2 linked regions of the Homo sapiens genome follow. The protein of the gene in region 1 interacts with the protein of each later gene in a pairwise test. Each region holds a gene or a part of one and is shown on either strand. Other genes may lie near its edges.

The links.
Region 2: the proteins of SCN5A (region 1) and ANKS1A interact in a two-hybrid assay, tested with the Homo sapiens proteins (one large-scale study listed by BioGRID).

Annotation. Positions count from the first base shown.
Region 1 is NC_000003.12:38,642,970-38,646,987, forward strand, and holds part of SCN5A (sodium channel protein type 5 subunit alpha), read right to left. Parts: intron 1-4,018. UniProt on the Homo sapiens protein: Pore-forming subunit of Nav1.5, a voltage-gated sodium (Nav) channel that directly mediates the depolarizing phase of action potentials in excitable membranes.
Region 2 is NC_000006.12:34,895,755-34,899,254, reverse strand, and holds part of ANKS1A (ankyrin repeat and SAM domain-containing protein 1A), read right to left. Parts: intron 1-3,500. UniProt on the Homo sapiens protein: Regulator of different signaling pathways. Regulates EPHA8 receptor tyrosine kinase signaling to control cell migration and neurite retraction.

The sequences.
Region 1 (4,018 bases):
GGCTCCGCAAGCAAGTGGGGGCTTTCCTTGGGTTTCCAGTTTTGCTGGCAACTAGCTGTCGCTTTATTTAACTGGCAGTCTGTGCTGCATCTGACCCAGCACAGTGGTGAGGCTGTCGCTGCAAATGGCCGGCTGAGCTCCCGTGTCTTCTTCTGACCACGTCTATGAGCAGAACATGAGGAACAGAGGCTGGGGTGGGTGGTCTCTGGCCCTCAGCCTCCTTGTACCCCACACCAGCTGGTGTCCCTTGAGTGGAGCCCTGGGCTCAGTACAGAATGAATGCGGGGCTGGGGTTCTTCCTAGGAGCATGCCCAGAGGCAGCAGAGCTGCGCAGCCAAGGGCGGGCACCTTGGCTCTGAGGGGCTTGTCTGGGCCACTTTCCTGCGCTTGGCCCAGGTCGATGAGGCTGGGGCTTTGATGGCCAGGCAGGGTGCACTGATTGGGCTTGGCTGGTCCCACCCATGGTCTGATTTTTCCCCCATCTTAGATCATTTGGGGTACCTCCCAGCCAAGCCTGAGTGTAGGGGGATGGCTAATGTAGCTTGAGTACCCTGAGAACTGATTTGGTGCCTGAAGCCAGATTACCTCTCTCTGCTCTGCCAACTCTTTGAAAGCGGCCTCTTGCCTTGCACAGGCCTTCGAGGAATCAATACCTACCAGAACGGCATTTACCTTTCTCCTGGTGCCAGGAGAAGCCTCTCTCCTGTTCAAAATCCATTCCCAGAAACCACGGGGGCTCCCTGGGCAAGGGTAAGGGTGAAGTCCTGTCTGAGCTCTGCCCACTTCCCCGTGTGACCTTGAGCCTATGGGGCAGCCAGCACCAGCCTTGGCCACCCAGGGCTGTTAGGAGGCCAAGGAAAGCCCTTGGTGATGATGACAGGGGTTTCTGAGTGGACAAGAGACCCTCCTGGGCACACAGAGATGCTGCGAGAGCAGCTCCATCCCTCCACTCTGCTAATACCTCTGTGGGGACATGACTTTCCATTGCCTCCCTAGGAGATTTAAACAGAAGAAGAAACTGAAGAGGAGAGAAAGAACTGAAGCCTCAGTGCATAGACATTCTCTCCTGACAACAGGCCCAGTCACATGATCTGGGCATTCACCTCTCTGAATTCTGTGCATCCTCTGTGGAGGGGTACCAGTCCCACCTGTTCCAGGCAGTCTCGCCTGGCTGCTCTGGGCCACAATGACCTCCCACCAGGGAAGCTCAGCCCCTAAGTTCAACCTTACATTCTTCCTGTCCTGGGCGGATCTCTCCCTGGCCCTCTGAGGCGAACCTAGGAGGTCTTAAGAATTTTCACTGTCCTTTTCTGCCCCTCCAGAATAGTAAACAGAGTGAGGAATGGACAAGAGAGGTTGAGAAACTGTTCTATCAGACTCTGGCTTCGCAAATCACAACTAAATTTTATGTTGGACTTGGGGCATACCAGGTACCCCTTGGGGAAATGAAGTTGCAGGGGGAGGCTGTGGGTACCAAGCTCCCCAGCCCATGGCTGTGGCTCTTCAGGGAAGACAAGTGACGGCAGGCGGGGTGGAGAAGGTAAGATAAGTGTTAAAGAATTGATGTCAGATGGCCTCAGTGTTGTGCCAGGGGTGGTGCCTACCTCCACAAAGCCTGGTCCTGGGACTGTCCCCACACTGGGGCTCCCAGGCTCTGAGAATTGATGTGGGGTCTCTATAAATAGCGTCATTCCATATTGATCATCTTAAAAAGACACGGTATGTTCTAGGCCCACGGATAGGAGAGTTGTGTCTAAAAATAGTCTCATCCCCAGGAACCGCTGCCAGCCTGAGGCGAGTGGTGTAAGCTGTGCATAGCCGAATGGGCAGTCTGAAGGGGTGGGTCAGAAACAGAGGCACAGAACCTCTCCATCCCTACCCTATTCCCTCTGCTCCAACCCACAGAGTTTGCCCCTGCCTCAGGGCCTTTGCACTTGCAGTTCCCTCTGTAACATTCTTTCCCTAGACCTCCTCGGGCTTGGTTCTTTCATGTTATTCAGGTCTCAGTTCAGTCTCCTCCTTCAAGGGGCTTTCCCTGCCCAGCCAGTCTAGAGTCACCCCCACGTCTCTCCATCACATTGTCCTGTTGTATTTCCTTCATAGCACTAGCCCCTATCTCAAATTATCTTCTGTATGGATTGGTTTAATGGTATCTCCCTACTTGTATGTAAACTTCATAAGAACAATTGTTATAGCTTGTACACCTTCTAGAACCTTCCATGGCCCAAAGGCATGAACTCTGCCTCAGACCCCTGCATCAGGGCAGCCTGGGCTGGCAGCAGGCTGTGGGGCTCTCCCGTCCCAGGCTTCCCCTGCAGCCCTGGCCAGCCCTGTCGTGGGTCTGCTCCCCACGGGGCCCAGCCTCTGTCCACAGGCTACTCACTGGCCCTGCTTTTTCCTCTCTCTGCCTTCTTCATGTATTTAGCCGCAGGGCTTTTACTCCAGCTCCCTTCTCCCAATCCTATCACCCTGGATACCTGCCCTAGACAACTTAATCTTGTCCCTAAATACGGCTTTCTGGAACACCCTTCTCTCTGCAGAGCAAGGGCTCCCTTCCCTTTCTGCCTGCCACCCCCAGCAGGAATCACATTTCCTGCCATCAAAATCTCCCTCCCAGAGATTCACAGAAAGAGTTATTCCCTCTACCCAGGCCTTCCTGACTGCCCCCTGAACAAACAGTAACCACTACACACTTCACTGGTACGATCTTAACTCACAGACCTGCAGCCCTCACTGAGGGAAAGGCCTTCCCCCAGGCTCCTGCATGGCGATGTGCTGCACGGACACGCATGCCCACAGTGTCCACTCCAGGCTCTCCCGACAGCCCTCCCTGACCCCACCCCTCGCCAGCTCCCTTCTATCTCTCTCCTCCCTCTTCAACCATCAAACTCTTTGAAAGAGCTGTCTATACATGCTGTCTCCACGTCCTCACCTCCAGCTCGCTTCTCAACCCACTCCAAACTGGCTTCCATTCCCACCAAGTCACTCATTCATTCATTCAACAAGAACCTGTCTGTACTGGGCCCTACATTCTGCGGGCGCTGAGTGGAGTTTCTCCTACCAAGGTCACCAGCACCCTCACCATGGCTCGATCTAATGGACACTTCTTTTTAAATTATTCATTCTTTTTCTATCTATCCATGAACTTCTGAGAATGCACCTTAAGTCTCTCAGCAGAAAGAAACAGGGCACTTTCCCTCCCCCCGAGCAGGGCACTCTCCTTGCCTTCTGCAGCGCCTCCTACTCCTGGCTTTCCTCCTACCTCTCTGGCTGCTCCTTTTCAGCCTTCTCTGCAGACTTCTCCTGCTTTGATGGTTGGAGTATTTCTGGGCTCCTGACTCAGCCCCCTTCCTTCTTACCCTCTACACCACGTTAGAATCACCTGGGTGCTTCCAAAACTCCCGATGCCCAGGCCTCATCCCAGGGTCAAATGAATTAGCATGTCTAGGGCTGGAGCCTGAGCATAGGTATTTTTACTTAAAGCTTTCCAAGTGATGCTAATGTCACCAGGAGTGAGAACCCCAGGTCTGCACTCTCGCTGGGCAATCTAACTCAGTGCCACATCTCCAATGACCAACCTCTGCTGAAAGCTCTAAGTTTCCATTTCCAGCCCAGATCTCCATCCTGAACATACTTCCTACCTGGACCCTTCCCTCCAACTACCTTCTGGATGTCAGCATCTGTCCCTGGAAGTACAACAGGTTCAAATCAGAACCATGAAACATCTGTCACTTTTCCTTTGCTCTTCATCAAGCTTGCCAACCCAAATTTAACTTGCCCATTCTTCTTCTCATGGTGCGCCAGGGGGCAGCACACCTCACTTAGTGAGACATTGGAGGTGGGGAATGGGAGAGCAGCATGTCACTTGACAGAGAAGGAAGATGGGACACCATAAGTTCTATTACCTGTGGTAAGCTGCCAGTCGCCTCTCCTTCAATGGAAAGACTTTGCATGGCACCCATGGTCTGAGCTGGGGAGGTGGTATAGTACACAGCAGATATTGACACTTGGGCTCAAA
Region 2 (3,500 bases), on another chromosome or scaffold:
AAGTTAACCATTAAAAAGTCCTGGGCTTGCACAAAGGTTACTTTCTGAATATAAGTAGTATTTAGCAACCATAAATCAGTATATTACTTCCCAGTCAGAAGGACCCAGGAGATGTAAGGGGCCTCAGAATTACTATGAGTCCTCAAATTCAACAACATGTATGTTTCTTGTTGATTTTGAGGTGCAATTTGAATATTCAGCTGTTGATTTCTGCAATGGCTGAATGTTGAAACTACACCTACCATTCTATTGAATATATCAAATGTTATAAGCAGAATGTACACACAAACTTATCCACATGCATGTTCATCACAGAGCTGTTCTAATAGCAAAAAACGAAAAACAAACTCATGTTCCATGTCAGGAAAGGGGTTAAATTAATTACAATTCATATATACCACGGATATCACATCCATTTAAAATGAGGTTGAGGAGGACAGAAAATATAGGAAAGTGTTTTCACAATATAGTTCGTGAAAACATGAGACAAAGTATATACAAAATAATGTCATTTCTGTTAAAAAAAAAAGTTTGCACAGAAAAAAACAAGATTGTACACCAAAATTTCAAGTTAATTTCTGTAGGTGGTAAAATTATAACTGATTTTATTTTCTTCTTAGTGCATTTCTTTGTCTTGCAATTTTTCTACCATAAAGGCAGAGGTTTACAGTCCCTTATCAACAATTCAGAAATCCAAAAAGCTCTGAAAATATATTTTCATAAGTTAGCAGCAGTCATTTAGCTGCAAAACCTGACCTACGCTGATATGAAGCGGCTTCATATTTATCCCATTTAGTCAATATTTACAGGTTTTGCTGTAGAAATACAATGTTTCCAGGGTGCTGCCACAGTCCCACTAGGGACTCAATATACAATATTGAGTCAGCACCCTGAAAACATATCTGGCCCCAAGGTTTCAAACAAAGGATTGTGGACCTGGATTGCTTTGTAACTTTGCCACCATTGCCAATTTTCAGGCTTTTTAAAACTATGGGACTCTTCATAGTTTAAAAGGTTGGGAGCTTCTGCTGTGAATTATTATAAATGTTAAAATGGCAACATCAATAAAAGATATGTCCTTAACAGGGTCCTCACTCTGATTCATCAAGGGTGGCAAGCACCTGGCTCCCATTAGATGATTCTAGCAGCTGAGGGTTACCAAACCCTTGCCATGTGCCAGGCATTATATGCCTTACATCCTTTAGCTCATTTAATGCTGCTTTAGAAGATAGGCACCATCCCAGGCCCATTATATATATGAAGACACAGAGGCGCAGAAAAGTGACTTAATTTGCCTAAGTCACAAGGCAGAGTTGGGTCAGAACCTGATCCTTAGCCACCATAGTATGTCCTCACCACTTAAGTAGGCCAGGAGGCAGTTCTGCTTCCTGGATCAGTGGTAATAATATCACAAACAGATACAACTATCTTGTTTCAAAGCAGAGACAACTGACTTGTTTTAAAAACTCTTTTTTGATTTGTAAACTAAACAAACTTGATCTACAAATTACTGAGAAAGGATAAATATGAAGACATACCATATAATTTCCAGTATTACTACCATTAACTCTAACCACACCAAAGTTATGTGAAGATGTTCTATGAATGTAACATATTATACGATATAATTTTCTCTACCACAGAAAATCTCCCAATAATCCTTTGGAAATCAGTGTGGGAAATATTTTCTGAGAGCTCTCCAAAAAAGAGACCAAGTTCCTACCCACAGGAGAGCCTGATTTTTCTAAGAACAAACTCTCCACTGTCTACTTCTGGGGTTTCCTTAGTGTTTCTGGGCTAAAAACCCAGTAATTTACTTTCCCTATGAAAGACTAGGGCAGAAATAGCCTGGACTTCCTTTTGCAAACCAGAATTCACAGCTGTTTGGGGTGAACAATCCAATGTGGGAAAAAGAACCTCCTGAAGGGATTTTTCTGGCCAAGAATGTAACTTTCACTGGGACCATAACCTCCTATGACCCGTGAACATGCTGAAGCTACTAGATACAAGTCAAATTCTTCAGATCACAAGCTTGTTTCATTGTTTCCTGTCTCTAATTTTTGCAACTAAGAAAGTAAAAACTGAACTTCAATTGGAGGATGCAGGAAAAAGGGAGACCACTGACTTTAAATCTTAAACTTTGTAGTAAATTTTCTTTTCACTGCAGCCTCAACCTTCCACCTTCTGGGCTCTAGCAATTCTCCCACCTTTGCGTCTCTGCCTCCTGAGTAGCTGGGGCCACAGGTGCATGCCATCACACTCAGCTAATTTTTTATTTTTATTTTTTTTGAGATGGAGTTTCGCTCTTTTTTGCCCAGGCTGGAGTGCAATGGCACGATCTTGGCTCACTACAACCTCTGCCTCCCAGGTTCAAGCAATTCTCCTACCTCAGCCTCCCAAGTAGCTGGGATTACAGATGCAGGCCACCACACCCAGCTGATTTTGTATTTTTAATAGAGATGGGGTTTTACCATATTGGCCAGGCTGGTCTCTAACTCCTGACCTCAGGTGATCCACCCGCCTCAGCCTCCCAAAGTGCCGGGATTACAGGCGTGAGCCACTGCGCCTGGCCTAGTTTTTTTATTTTTTGTAGAAACGAGGTCTTGCCATGTTGCCCAGGCTGGGTAAATTATCTTTAATTCTAAGTAAATGCCTTACTCAGTTTAAGATTAGGCACCTTCTAGATTTTTACATATAAAGTAACTACCACAAAAGTCATTTCCAAGCATGTTACCTTTTTTTGTTTCCTTTTGTTTTTTAACATGGGAACCACACTCTGCTTTAGAGAAAGCAAAAATGTAAGTACAGCAATTCCAAAATGCAGGAACAGGGCTGCCCTCCCAACAAAATCACACTTAAAGGGAGTATTTTAAGACATTCTTGGCTGGGCGTGGGGGCTCACACCTGTAGTAATTCCAGCACTTTGGGAGGCCGAGGCAGGCAGATCACTTGAAGTCAGGAGTTCGAGACTAGCCTGGCCAACATAGTGAAACCCCTGTCTCTACTAAAATACAAATATTCGCCAGGTGCAGTGGTGCATGCCTGTAATCACAGCTACTCAGGAGGCTGAGGCACAAGAATTACTTGAACCTGAGAGGCAGAGGTTGCAGTGAGCTGAGATTGCACCACTGTACTCCAGTCTGGATGAAGGAGTGAGACACTGTCTCTGAAAAAAAAAAGAAAAAAAAAAAAGGCCAGGCACGGTGGCTAACGCCTGTAATCCTAGCACTTCCGGAGGCTGAGGGTAGACTGCCTGAGCTCAGGAGTTCGAGACCAGCCTGGGCAACACAGTGAAATCCCGTCCCTACTAAAATACGTGCGCCTGTAATCCCAGCTACTCGGGAGGCTGAGACAGGAGAATCGCTTGAACCCGGGAGGTGGAGGCTGCAATGAGTCGAGATCGTGCCATCGCACTCCAGCCTGGGCGAGAGAGAGAGACACTGTCTCAGAAAAAAAAAAAAAAAAAAAAAAAAAGAAAGACATTCTTGAAAAACTATTTT